Linked DNA regions of Homo sapiens. The protein of the gene in region 2 binds, or shares a complex with, the protein of the main gene of each other region. Each region holds a gene or a part of one and is shown on either strand. Other genes may lie near its edges.

The links.
Region 1: the proteins of CEP250 (region 2) and FKBP1A are in contact, whole or in part, in a crystal structure (PDB 6OQA), measured with the Homo sapiens proteins. Residues at the interface, in NP_009117.2 of Homo sapiens: Gln2191, Met2195, Gln2198, Val2201, Leu2202, Asp2205, Ser2206, Gln2208, Gln2209, Gln2212; in NP_000792.1 of Homo sapiens: Gly20, Thr22, Asp38, Arg43, Lys45, Phe47, Lys48, Phe49, Met50, Lys53, Glu55.

The regions. Positions count from the first base shown.
Region 1 is NC_000020.11:1,383,055-1,390,327, forward strand, and holds part of FKBP1A (peptidyl-prolyl cis-trans isomerase FKBP1A), read right to left. Parts: intron 1-7,273. UniProt on the Homo sapiens protein: Keeps in an inactive conformation TGFBR1, the TGF-beta type I serine/threonine kinase receptor, preventing TGF-beta receptor activation in absence of ligand.
Region 2 is NC_000020.11:35,458,536-35,465,808, reverse strand, and holds part of CEP250 (centrosome-associated protein CEP250), read right to left. Parts: intron 5,827-7,273; 5' UTR 5,704-5,826; intron 3,545-5,703; 5' UTR 3,442-3,544; coding exon 3,256-3,441; intron 2,235-3,255; coding exon 2,178-2,234; intron 67-2,177; coding exon 1-66. UniProt on the Homo sapiens protein: Plays an important role in centrosome cohesion during interphase. Recruits CCDC102B to the proximal ends of centrioles. Maintains centrosome cohesion by forming intercentriolar linkages.

The DNA.
Region 1 (7,273 bases), about 34 Mb from region 2:
AGACTCAAGACCAGGACCTGGAGATTCACAAGGACCACTGGGATACTATTTCACTAATAACCCAATAGAAATGGAGTCACTTCCAAGGCACTCTGCTTTGGGGAAGGGCAGAGTGCCATATACCTTCTACTGGGTAACAGGACTGAAGAAGGCACCTCTACAGACTTATGGCTTCACTACTTGTAGTGAAAGCTCATGACTCACAATGCAGTTTATAGTTGCTCATGAATCTTTGCAGGAGTGTTTCCTATAGGCAGCATTTTACAGGGACAAAATATGGGAAGTTTTAAGATTAAAAAAAAAAAAATGACTAAACTAAACCAAAAATCAAACATAACAAAAAACCAGAATATCCTAAGCCCCAAACCTTCAAAATAAAATAAAGTCCTTGCCATTTACAGTTTGGAGAGGGAAAAGGATTTCTACTTTCAACACGCAGGTGAGTTTCTTAATGACAAAAAGTACAATGAGGCCAGCTGCGGAGGAGGCTCATGCCTGTAATCCCAGTGCTTTGGAAGGCCAAGGCAGGAGAATCACTTGAGGCCAGGAGTTTGAGACTGGCATGAGTTTGCAACCAGCCTGGGCAACACAGCAAGACTCATGTCCCCAATCCTGTTTCTGCAAAAAATTAAAAAAAAAAAAAAAAAAATTTAGCCAGACATGGTCCTAGCTACTTGAGTGGATCAAGTGGGAGATCACTTGAGCCCAGAGGTTTGAGGTTGCAGTGAGCTATGACCGCACAAGTACACTCCAGACTGGGCAACAGAACGAGACTCTGTCTCTTAAAAAAAAAAAAAAAGGTGTAATGGTTGAATGGGTGGAGGTAGGGGGAGCCAGTATTTTTCTGCAGCTTTGCATTTGAAGCCACTCAGAACATTCCCAGATGGGCGTATGGCTCAAGGTCTAATGGTTTAGCTGTTTGCTTTCCCTCTTCTTATTAGACACAGAAGTTCTCTTAACCACCTTTTACTCAGCTGCCTTACTTGGAGACTCATAAAACTCACAGCCTTCGTACCCCAGCATAGTGAAGAGCACTCCCCTCATGCTTTAGTCTCTAGCTCATGATCACTTCTTCATTCCCATATGAGTTCTGTGTTCACAAAGGGAGGAGTGGTTAGCTGTGTTTGTCCCCAAATCCATTTATGGTAGCTATATTTACTGTGTAAATATAATGTAATTAAATAGTATGTAAATCAATAAAATGAGTGTGAATACAAACAGCGGTTCTAGCTGACTCCTGGGAAAGACTCAATAAAGGCAAGTCACTAAAAAACTATTGCTAGTGAATAATCATATGGGAGACTACATTTAGAGAAAGAAATCTTAAAAATCTGGAAAGGTTTGGTTTTTAAATGTTCTCACAATACTCTTTGCTCTACTTTAAAAAAGGTCAAATTGGTTTTTGCAAGAACTATGATGGGAAACTCCACTAGCAGAGCCATCCTCAAAGATAAAGACATAGTCCTTTAGCAAATGATTTATGTTAGAGTTTGAAATCAAATGTTTACAGAAGCCATGTCACTTTTATGTTAGCATACCAACTACCCACTTGTCTCAATCATGATGGGTAAAAAGGGATTCTACATTTAGATAGGCAAAAGATACAAATTCAAATCTTACATTCTTATTATTCCATTTCTGGGTCTCTGTGGCTGTATTCCAGCACAACCTCCCTGAAGTGGGGTTCTGAGAACTCCTTATGAGTGAGGGGTATGACCAAAGGTCCAAGTGCCAACCCAAAGAGGGAACCAGCTCACTCTCACTATCATTTTCCTGAGATCACCAACAGTGCAAGCACATTTCCCATACGCAGTATGGAAATGCTTCTAACCTTTGGCTAAATCCCTTTAGATCCTATAACCAAAAGTGTATTTTCAAAGGCAGGGCCCATGATGGGAAGAATATGCAGGATCCAACGGCAATAAAAAGAACACAGACCAGAATGCATGCCCTGTGGGTGTGTCTCTCCATTTTCCACTTTAATCACAGTATAAATAAGAGGAGTTACTACCACATTATATCGCATGGGGAGGGGGAGAAAGAAATACCACTAGGCCGGGTGCAGTGGCTCACGCCTGTAATCCTAGCACTTTGGGAGGCTGAGGCAGGTGGACTGCCTGAGCTTCGGAGTTTGAGACCAGCCTGGGCAACATGGTGAAACCCTGTATCTACTAAAATACAAAAAATCAGCCGGGCATGGTGGCGTGCGCCTGTAGTCCCAGCTACTTGGGAGGCTGAGGCAGGAGAACTGCTTGAACCCGGGAGGCAGAGGTTGCAGTGAGCCGAGATTGCACCAGGGCACTCCAGCCTGGGCGACAGAGTGAGACTCCATCTCCAAAAAAATCAAAAGAAATACCACTTAACAATAGCTAGCTGGAAGTGGTAGAAATATGCATTTTCTATAGGGTATAATGGTTAAAGGCATGAGTTCTGGACCTCTGTTACAGACTATTATTACAACTCCCTCCCTGGTCTCCCTGCTTCTGCTCTTGCTCTCCTACAGTCTAAACCTGACACAGCAGCCAGACCCTACTACCCCTCGGCTGAAAAACTCCTGTGACTCCCCCATCTCAGGAGATAAAACTCTTAAAATGGCCTACAAGACCCTCTAAGAAGTGTCAAGCCTCCGCCCCTACCACCATCCCTCTGACTTCACCTCTGATTACTCTTGTACTTTTCCAGTCCCAGAACATTGTTTCCTTATGTTCTACATACACACCAGGGATACCTCCACCCGTGGGCCTTTGCATTTGCTGTTCTCTCTGCCTAAAATGATCTTGCTCAAACAGTCACATAGGTTACATCCTTACCTCCTTCAAGTCTTTGCTCAAATGTCACTTTCTCATTGAGGCCTTTGCCAATCTATCTAAAACCTCAACCTTTTCCTATTCCCTCCTTAACACTTACTAGCTTATACACAACAGTCTTGCTTATTAATCATATTTATTATGTCTTTTCCACTACAGTGTGAGATGAAGGCAGGAACTGTGTCTTCTTCACTCCTAAATTCTTGGTAGCCAGGACAGTGTCTTGTACATAGCAGACATTCATCAAGTACTTACAGAAATATCAAAGGTACCCTTTTCTCCTCCTGGCCTGTGTATATACCTGGAAGACGCTTTCCTCCTGCCTGACTGCACCATACACACCCAAGACCAAATGGCACTTCCTCCAAGAAGTTCTAGCCTATAGGTGTAGGTTGCCTGAGGTACTTTCATTGTAACTGACCACTCCCTACAGGGTAAGCTTCTTGAGGGCAACATTGAGGCTTTGCCCAGCTCCTTATATATTCACTGAGTGACCGAGGGAATGCCAGGTCCTAACTGGCCACTCATTCAAACAGTCACTGAATAGCTACTCTATGCCAAGACTGATGGGGAGACCTTGGAGAACAACACTAGTGTGGGTCTGGCCTCCTGGAGCCTTCAGTCGGTTGGGGAAAGAGCAGATGTTTAACTACACGGATCCTGACTATGATGGGGGCTAAGAAAATAGATGGGTGCATTGTTGCAGAATTAGAAGCATGCATGTATGCATCCAAAGTGTTACTTAAGCTGTGCTATAAAGAAAAGAGCCTGTCATGCAGTGGGGAGTGGGGGCAGTGTGGTGGCACCTAAGCAAAGGGGCAGAGACCTCCATGTGGGAAAAGGCTTGGAGCATTCGAGGAATGAATGCAGGCCAAGGTGGCTTGAGCTCCTGGGAGAGGAAGAGCAAATGTAACAGAAAGAGACAGTAGCATCTAAGAACTGGTTATTTCTACCTCCCCGACTTTCTGCACTGCTAGAATACACCTGGTCAAAATCAAAGGGGTCCAGGGGAGGGAATGCAGAGACTTGGTTAAGCTTTTTAGCAGGAAAAGAAAACAAAAAAACAGAAGAAAAAATAGAAGTAAAAATAAACAAATGTCACCATGAGCACCAAAGGGAGAACTGAATGCTATGTGATTAAGTTATTCATAACCTTGGCTTCTTCCATGGGAAACAGCAGGTGACAATATTTTTAGAGAAAATTCCAAGGCAGACAAATGATTTCCAGTTTATGGATACAATAAACCCCTCAGTAATTCATAAAAATCAGTTTAAGCCTAAAAATGTTCTAGTTAAAACATCTATGAGTAAATAGGTGAATTTATGGTATGTAAATTATATTCAATAAAGCTGTTACCAAGAAAAAAAAAGGTCATGGACCCCACTGAAAGGAACCAGAGCTCTTTGAAAGATGGCTGATAATTGGACCAGAGTAGTGAAACCGAGAAATGGATGAAGGAATGGTGGGAGCCTGTCAAAAAGGTACTGGAGCCAGCTTAAAGGGCTCCTACTGGCCAAATTTAGGATGATATTAGCATCAAAAAGAATAATGGGTATCATTGATCTTAAGGCCCTGACAAAAAATTTCAGCCCACAGTACAGTCAAAGCAAATAGAGGGGGAAAAAGTCACTTGCCCCCACTGGGAATGGCAATACCCCATCAGTTAACATTCATTTTTCATTTTAAAAATTGGTAATTAAAGGCTGGGCACGGTGGCTCATGCCTGTACTACCAGCACTTTGGGAGGCTAAGGAGGGTGGATCACTTGAGGCCAGGAGTTTGAGACTAGCCTGGGAAACCTGGCGAAACCCGTCTCTACAAAAAATACAAAAATTAGGACAGGTGGCATGCACCTGTATGCCCAACTATTCAGAAGGCCGGATGGGAGGCCGGGATGGGAGTCTGGGAGGTCGAGGCTACAGTGAGCCATGATCAAGCCACTGCACTCCAGCCTGAGTGACAGAGACACTGTCTCAAAAAATAAAAATAAAATTTGGTATTTAAAGGTAAAGAATTACTTTACCTTATCTTATAGAAGGATAACAGCTAATAAATTTAGAAAGAATGAAGGAATTTTAAAAATCAACACTTTGTGAATGCCAGTGACTTCTTCAGGGGAGAATGATCAGATGGTGTAAACACCACTAGGTGAAAGGCTGATGAGCAAGAGACCATCTATGGCTACCTAAGCACTCCACAGATCACTGCTAAATGCAAAGGGAAAAATGTACCTTTACAGAAAAGATCAAATTTAGCATCACAACTAGTGATGTTTCCCATGTGTGCTGAGGATGAAGTACTCACACTAAAATGTTTAAACGGAATCTATTCAGACACTTAAAAGATTAAACATCCGGTTCAGAAAATCAAGGCAGGGAACAAGTTAAACAATACCATGAGAAAACAGTAAGACAGATGTGGAGTATTCTATAACTAGCCTGCTCTCTTTGAAGAAATCAGAGTTATTAAGAAAAAAACAGCGTAAGGACTCTTCTAGACTGAGATTACAGACATAACAACTGCGATGAGTGAGGCTCAATGGAACTGTGGTTTTAAAAAAGAGCAACACTTTGGAGACAACTGGGTAGTCTCGATAGGCATTTGCTTCACAGCAGGCATCGTTACTCCCATTTTATAGACAGCATGTGGAAGCTGGGAACTGTGGGACAATTTGTTCAAGCTCTCATAGCCCGTTGTATGGCAGGGTCAAGATCAGAACACAGCGAAGAACCCACATGCTCTTTGGGGATCACTGTCCACCTGGCACCACTTCTGCCCACTGCCTGAGCTGGCACTCCACACACCTGGGATACAACCAGTGTCCTGTTTCTGCCTTTGCCCCCAAAAGCCCATTGTCCACACAGTAGCCAGAAGGAGCGTGGGTTGGGGGGGCGGGGGCGGGCATTAAAAGCCAAGCCAGCCAGTGGCTCTCACCTGAGTTAGAAAAAGGCAACGTTTTTATAAAAACCAACGAGGCTCCACCATCCCCTCATCTCCTGCCACATACCCTTTCACACAATCCACTTCCTGTTCCTCTAACGCACCGGTCTTCTTACTGTTCCTCTAATGCACCGAGCAGGCTCCAGCCTCAGGGTCCTGCACTAGCTCTTCCCTCTGCCTGGATACTCTAGACAGCCCTGTAGCTCCCTCTCCAATGTCCTTTGAGTGAATGTTAAAATGCCATTTTTTTCAGAGGCCTTTTCCAATCACCCTCACGAAAAGCAGCCAACTTCCCTTCCCATCCCTCACTCTGCTTTAATCTCTCCAGCGCTTCTTACTACCTGATGTGCTCCATGGCCATACTATCAGTCTCCTCATCATAAGCAAAGCCCCACCAGATCAGGTCTTTGTCTATTTAGTTCACTAGCCATGTCCCTAGAGCCTGGCTTGCTGCTGTTGCTCAAAAAACATCTGCTGTGGGAAGGCAAAGGGACTTGTTGCAGCCCTGCCCAACAGTTACAGCCTGTGTGCCTCAAGACAGCACACGTCAGGGGAAGCCATCTGAGGCATCTCTGCTGAGGGTGAGCCTCCCTCCAGACATCAGATCACCAACCAAGAGATACCTAGCAAGGGAGTGGATGGAATAAAGCAGAGGAGAGGGGGGAACAAAGCTAAGGAAAAGCAAGGGGCTTGAGGGAGGCTGCAGCAAAGTGGCCACACCTGTCCCGGGAGCCTCAGCAGCCTTCCCAGTCAACCTCCTGAGGACATGAGGTTGAGGGGCTCCTGGTTTTTCTCAGTCAGAAACCGGGAGGCTATACCTGACTTAAACCTGATCCCAAGGACAAAATGTCCAGTTAGTTACTTTTTAAGAAGAAAAAAGAAAACATTCCTTCAATCCCCTTGGGGCTGCTCTCACAATGGCAGGCACACGGCCTGCTGAAGTAAGTAAAAGAGGTCTAAACCTAGCTGTGTGCCAGGACAAGCTAACAGTAAAGATGACGAAGCTACTGGAGGCAGCAGGGAGGCGCCATGAGAATTCCCTGGCTCCTAAAGGCACTTACTTGGCAGCTTACCTTTCCACCACCTCCCTCCCACCTCAATGCCTGTCATGCTCCTAGGAGATGCTTAGCTGGTGATAGTGAACTTTGTATTTTCCCTCTGGTACCACAGAGGTAGTGCAGGCATTCCTTTGAGGCCTTGCTCATGCTGTGCTCTGCCAGAAGGTCACGGAAGTCACCAGAGGGACCCTTGAGAGTGACATCAAGGTGACTGACAGCCATTAGTGGCATTTAAAGCATCCATGTGGTAAAGGTCAGTCTGTGCTCTGCACACCTGTGATGGCTAAGGGGAGATTTTGGCCACCTTACTTCCACCCCTCTTTCTCTGGACCCGTGCCCAAATCAGCTGAGTGGACACCTGGCAAGAGCTGACTGGATCAAGAGTGTTCACCTTACTCAAACTCTCCTTCTCAGAGAAGTAACAATCAGAATCACAGCCAAGAAATCTGAGCCAGATACTCAAAAGA
Region 2 (7,273 bases):
CAATCGGACCAGCAGCTCATCCAGGTTTGGCTCCTCCACATTTTCCCACCTCTGGGGGATTGGTCCCTGCGCCAGACAGAGACAAGCCTTACTTACCTCCAAAGAGAACATCACTCAGACCAGTTCCCTAAGGCTCCCTTCCATGGCAGTCCACTTTCTTTTTATTCTTTCTCCCCTTTGTTAGCAATATGCTTCTATTCTCAATCACTGCATCCCTCACTCCAAAAGTAAACTGATGACCTCTCCTGAAAGACGGCCTTCAGTAGTAAATAGAATCTTCAACTTAAGAAGTGATGTATCTTTCACTAATGGCCTTAACTTCCACTACACTAACGGTTTGACCTTGGGAAGTGACTTAACTTCTTTCATTTTTTTTTTTTTTTTTTTTGGAGACAGAGTCTCGCTCTGTCGCCCAGGCTGGAGTGCAATGGCACAATCTCAGCTCACTGCAACCACCGCCTCCCAGGTTCAAGTGATTCTCCTGCCTTAGCCTCCCAAGTAGTTGGGATTATAGGCACCTGCCACCACACCTGGATAATTTTTGTAGTTTTAGTAGAGATGGGGTTTCGCCATGTTGGCCAGGCTGTTCTTGAATTCCTGGCCTCAAGTGATCCACCCACCTCAGCCTCCCAAAGTGCTGGGGTTACAGGCATGAGCCACCACACCCAGCCTGTGAAGTCACTTAACTTCTTGGAGCTACAGTGTCTCCAGCTACAAAATGAAAGCGGTATATCGTTCCCTTCAGAAAGTTGCTGTGCAGGTTAAGAGACACAATTATAGATGCTCCTTGACTTATGCTGGAATTTCATCCCATAAATCCATCATAAGTTGAACATAAGTTAAAGGTGTGTTTTCAACTTACGACGTTTTCTTTTTTTCTTTTCTTTTTGAGACAGTCTAGTTCTGTTGCCCAGGCTGGAGTGCAGTGGCATGATCTCGGCTCACTGCAACCTCTGCCTCCTGGGTTCAAGTGATTCTCCTGCCTCAGCCTCCCGAGTAGCTGGGATTACAGGCACGCACCATCATGCCCGGCTAATTTTTTGTATTTTTAGTAGAGATGGGGTTTCACCATGCTGGCCAGGTTGGTCTTGAACCCCTGACCTTGTGACCCACCCACCATGACCTCCCAAAGTGCTGGGATTACAGGCATGAGCCACTGCGCCTGGCTGACATTTTCAACTTATGATATTTTCAACTTAACAGTGAGTTCGGGCCAGATGCAGTGGCTCACACTTGTAATCCCAGCAGTGGGAGGATTGCTTGAGTCTAAGAATTTGAGACCAGCCTGGGCAACATAGAGAGACCCTGTGTCTACAGAAAATAAAGAAAATTAGCCAGATGTTGAGGCATGTATCTGTAGTCCCAGCTACTTTTTGGGAGGCTGAGGTGGGATGATCGCTTAAGCCCAGGAGGCTGAGGCTGCAGTGACTCATGACTGCACCAGTCCACTCCAGCCTGGGCGACAGAGTAAGTAGGACCCTGTCTCAAAACAACCAACCAACCAAACAAACAAAAACCAACCAAACAAGCAAGCAAAACAACCCCAAACAATGGGTTTATCCAGCTGTAACCCCATCATAACCCAAGGAACATACTGAATGCATATAGCTTTCACATCATCATAAAGTTGAAAACTTGCAACCATCCTAAGTTGGGGAGGACCATCTGTATATGACAGTGCCTCATGCTGCCTGGACTGCATTGAGGGTGCTCAATAAGTTTTGGTTCTTTCCTTCCTCTGAGAGAACTTTTCTGAGGAAAATGTGAGGAGGTACTGAGAGGCAGCTGGAACAAAGGCAAATAAATGGGTTTTTCAAAGCCAGTTCTAATAGCACAGACATCCCTTTGCTGCAGACATGCTGTAGGCTCGCAAAGGCCTGCATCTTTCTAAAAGAAACACTGACACCTGCTGGAGGAAACATGCACTTCTTCCTGCTAATCCCACACTCCTTCCAATCTAATTTACATTTCGTCCTTTGAAAACCAAGGGTTGGAATCTGACAGGCCAGCTAGGTCCAATGAAGATATCAGTGTGATAAACCTCTCAGAGGCTGAGAAAGAGAGCCTTCCACCAAACACCTCACTTGTACACTCCAACCTCCCTCAGTCAACAAATGAAACCTAACAAGTATATTCACTGAGGACCCAGGGGGTGCAGAGAGCTCAGCCTCACTCACTCCAGTGGCTTCTAGCCGCTTCTCCAGCTCTTGGCACCAGCTTCGGTACTGCAGCACCTGCAGCAAAAAGAACAGGCCCTGGGCAATGAACACAGCTGGCACAAACAGCCCAAAGCAAAGGCCCCTGAGGATCTTAGGCAAACTTGCTATGAACAGGGGAAATGGGTGGTGACAGTAAGGTAAGGCCATAACATCTTATAGTTTCTATTTGGGCATTTTTTTCTTTTTTGAGATGGAGTCTCGCTCTGTGTCCCAGGCTGGAGTGCAGTGGCACAATCTTGGCTCACTGCAACCTCCGCTTCCCAGATTGAAGTGATTCTTCTAACTCAGCCTCCCGAGTAGCTGGGATTACAGGCATGCGCCACCACACTCAGCTAATTTTTGTATTTTTAGTAGAGACAGGGTTTTGCCATGTTGGCCAGGCTGGTCTCAAACTCCTGACCTCAGGTGATACACCTGCCTCGGCCTCCCAAAATTCTGGGATTACAGGCATGGGCCACCGTGCCTGGCCTTATTTGGGCATTTAAATAATACTTTCTATATGAGCGAGACTCTGTCTCAAAAATAAATAAATAAATAAATAAATACTTTCTATATGCCTTTTATATCACAGAGGCAAGATCATGGGCTTTGGCTCTAGACTAGCTGAAGAAACCTGGATAATTAACTTAACCCTTGTGAATTTCATCTTTAAAGAGATATATTAGCCAAAAGTGGTGGTGTACACCTGTGGTCCCAGATACTCCAGAGGCTGAGGCAGGAGGACTGCCTGAGCCCAGGAGGTTGAGGCTGCAGCGATCTGTGATCATACCACTGCACTCTAGCCTGGGCAACAGAGCAAAACCCTATCTCAAAAATAAAATTAAATTAAAAGGATATAATACGTACCTCATGGAGCAGTTGTGAGCATCAAAAGAGAAGCTGTACATGAAAGCTAGAAGGTCTGGGTCTTATCTCACCATGCTAGATGTAGGCCACTCCCACCACAAGACTCTGCCTCCTGCAACCCTTATCTCACCTCAGCACCTAGCTCTGGGGGTTGTTCTCTTTCCCCTCCCCAAAAGGGCAGCTGCCTCACCTTGGCCTGCAGCTTCCTCACAAGGGTTGCTTGTCTCTGCTGGGCCTCCTGGGAGTTCTTCAGCTTCCGCCAGGAGGCTGCCTGATTCTCTGCCATCTGCTGCTGTAGTGCCAGCACCTGCTCTTCCAGTACCAGCTGCAGTGACTGGGGCTTCATGTTGTTCAACCCAGGGCTTCTTGTCTCCATGAGGGCACCAGGTGGTAGGCCCACAGGTCCCTAGGTAGCCAGAGGGTGTTCACGCCCAGCAGGGTCTCTAACCATTGCCATGCCACTTCAACCTCCTCTTGAACTGGGGACCAAAGCACATAGTCAAATGGAAAGGACTGTTCTTTTACTACACACAAGACTCCTCAGAACCTTTAAAATACTAAAAGGGACCCTCATCTCTGAAGGGCGCTATGATGAGCATCATTCCCCAAATTTAACTGACCATGAGACAAGCTCACAGGACTAGTGTCTCCTGGCATGACTTTTGGAACTCTGCACTAAACCAAGAGCTCCTGGTTTATCACTGCATCCTTAGTTCCTGGCACAGTGGTTCAGAAACATTTGTTGAATGAATCGCTGAAGGTGTTCTTAGTCTAGCAGGGGAAATAGACACAAACTATTACAATACATACAATGTAGCATGTGAAATAATAAGATAATATGAGAAAACAAAGGAAGAGAACCCAGCCTGGGAGCCTGTGAACTGTGTGAATCATCATCATCATTGTTAACACTTGCTGAGTGCTTCTGGAGGGCTGTTGCTTTAAGTGCTTTACATGCATTACGTCATTTTGTTTTTACAAAAATCTTGAAACCTTCCAATGCCTTCTCATTACACTTCACCAAACGTACTATTATAACTCTTTATATATAGATGAGGAAACTGGGGCTTAGAAAGGTTAAAAAACTTGTGCCAGGCCACACAGCTGGCATATGGTTGAGAGAGATTTGAACACAAGTAGTCTATCTGACAAAGAAAAGGGGTAGCAGGCATTTCAGGCAAAGGATCCAAAAGAGAGAAGGAACCAGTGGCAGCAGGATGGCCAAACCCCCTCACCCACCAGGAGCTGGGCCAAAACAGGGCAATGGGCCACCACAGGCAGAGGCGGCCAGCCTAACGGTGACCTTCATCAGAGATACCCAGGACAGGGGAAGGCATGGTGGTAAAGAGTTCTGGGTGTTAGTCCAAGCTCTGCCTCCAATGGGCTCTGTGACCTCAGATGTGCTACTTCCCTCATCCAGAAATGAGGGTATCATGACCTCTGAGTTACTTAGGCCTCTAAAACACACAATTATCCCATAACCTGGGCCAGAGGAAGAGTTCTCTCATTTTATTAACCCTAAGACTCTCACCAGCAGGGCTAAGGAATATCCGTATTTTCAACTACCTATCAACAAAATGGTATATACAGCGAATGCAAACCTAACATTTGCACATACAGTAGAAATTTCAAGGGCCCCAAATCCCTTTAATGCACCAAACTATTGATTTCCCACATCCTGGCTCAAATGCCACGTCCTATCATGTCCTCCCAGATGAACCCAGGAAGAGTTAGTCACTTTTATAGCTATATACACAGAGAGAATACATATGTTCTGATGTCTACTCTACATCTTATCATCATTACTTGTCTATTTTCTCTGCTAATCCATGAGTACCTCAAAGGCAGGAGCTGTCTAATTCATTTTAATTGTAACTTGTCAACAATGTCCAGTGAAGAAATGCATGTGAGCCTCACTCCTGGCAGAGCTAAGCCATAAGCCAGAGATGACAAATCAGTGCCCTGCTAGCTCTTTTCAGCCATTGTGTGGCCCACATAATAGTTTTTAAGAATTCAAATTAGGTGCCAACATTTATCATTGGGAGAATGTACATAAAATCCATATTTCTGGCTCCTTTGGAAAATCAGAATACCCAGTGATGCTTGACCCATATTTCAATAAGGCAACAACCAGCTGCACAGTTGAATAGTGCCTGCCCGTTTAGACAGGGCACGCGCTCCGTGCAGTTGAACAGCGCCTGTCTCCTTTAGACAGGGCGTGTGCTCTGCACAGTTGTATAGTGCCTGCCCCCTTTAGACAGGGCATGTGCTCTCCAGTTCATCATGGCCTCCCCTATGCACACACCGATTCTCTCCCTCACAATGATAGCATATTTCAGTTGTCATTTATCATTGCAACTGTGCTATTGTTTCTGTTATAGTAGCATTAAAGAGGAAAACTCGGCTTACTAATTTACATTACCTCCTGAACAACCGAAGATACTTGAGTTTGCAGAGCCTGTACTAGGCAGTAAGGAAAGTGCATAAAGTAGGGAGAATAGAATGGCACCAATAAAGGTTTGGTGGCACCAGTACTCCAGGCCTCTTCCTAGCCTACGAACCAGGGGAATACAACCTTTCCCCATACTATTACACCCTCCTTTTCAGCCTTTTTGCCAAGGCTGTGTGACCAACTCACCATGGTGCTATGAAATGTTGGCTCTGTTGAGTTCAATGAAGCTCAATCCCTCTCTGCTGGTTGGAGGCACAGATCTTCCAGGAAACTATTCTCTTATCCCAGGATTTCTGCCAACAACTCTACCTACAATAATGTAGATCCAAGTTACTCCAAGGGAACTGAGGAGCCTTTTCTCTCCTAGTATGGTGAGGGCTGAGCCGGGCTTTTGCATGCAGTGGGAGTTTATGAGGTCTCAAAGGCCCCCTCACACTTTGTTGAATCCCTATCCCAAAACATTAGGTTGAACCATATGAAATTGCTAATATTATCCTATTATTATTATTATTTTTAGAGAAAGGATCTAGCTCTGTCACCCAGGCTGGAGTACAGTGGTGCAATCATAGCTCACCGCAGCCTCAAATTCCTGGGCTGAAGGGATCCTCCAGCCTCACCCTTCAGAGGAGCTGAAGATGTGTGCCACCGAGGCTTTTTTTTTTTTTCTTTGGTAGAGACAAGGTTTTGCCATGTTGCCTAAGCTTGTCTCGAACTCCTGGTTTCAGACAGCCACCCCCTGGTCCAAGCCTCCCAAAGCAATGGCATTATAGGTGTGAGCCACCAAGCCCAGCCTCACTCATTACTTTTTATCTACAAAAATGGCAATTTCACATCATTCAACCTAATATCTCTAATAAGCAGTCCTGCCACACATAGTTCCATGAATTCTCATTAAGTTTTCTTTTAGGATATGGCTGTCAGTAACTTGCAAACATGATTTGGCAAGGTGGTATTAGTAATACTTAAGCAAATAAAGAAAATTATATTACAATTATATAATTATTTTACTTTAGCAGATAATTAAAAAATTTTAAAGCTATTTAGAAATTTAGTCCACCCCCCTCATCTTGCAGATAAGGAAACTGAGGCTTGTAGAGATAAAGCAACTTCATTTTGTTTATATTTTTATATGCCCCACTTATCTCAAAAAATGATTTGCATGGCCAGGCACAGTGGCTCACACCTGTAATCCCAGCACTTTGGGAGGCTGAGGCAGGCGGATCACTTGAGGTCAGGAGTTCGAGACCAGCCTGGCCAACACTGTCCAGCCTGGGCGACAAGAGCAAGGCTCCATCTCAAAAAAAAAAAAAAAAAAAAAAAAAAAAGATTTGCATTATAGCAAATATACCATACTAAAAGGGGAGACTGGGTGCAAGGTATACAGGAACTCTCTGTACTATGCAATTTTTCTGTAACCCTAAAATTGTTGTAAAAAATAGTTTTAAAAAATGATTTAAAGTTTTTTAAAACCAAAACAATCCTCATAAAACTAAAATTTATTAAAACAAGAATAAAAGAGAAGAGACAGAGAAAAATTATCTCAGGAATCTTTCTGAAATTCAGATTTCATTCTGAGCTTCCTCAAGACACAGTTCAGCATCCTTTTACAAACACACTGCCAGATCAGATCTGCTAGGAATAAACTAGCAGAGCCCCCAAAGGGAAAGTAAATTTCAATGTGCCTGAGAAAGGGAAAAGAGCAGTAGCTGGCAAACTAACAAATTGGATTACATCTAAATAAGATAATGAGTGTCAG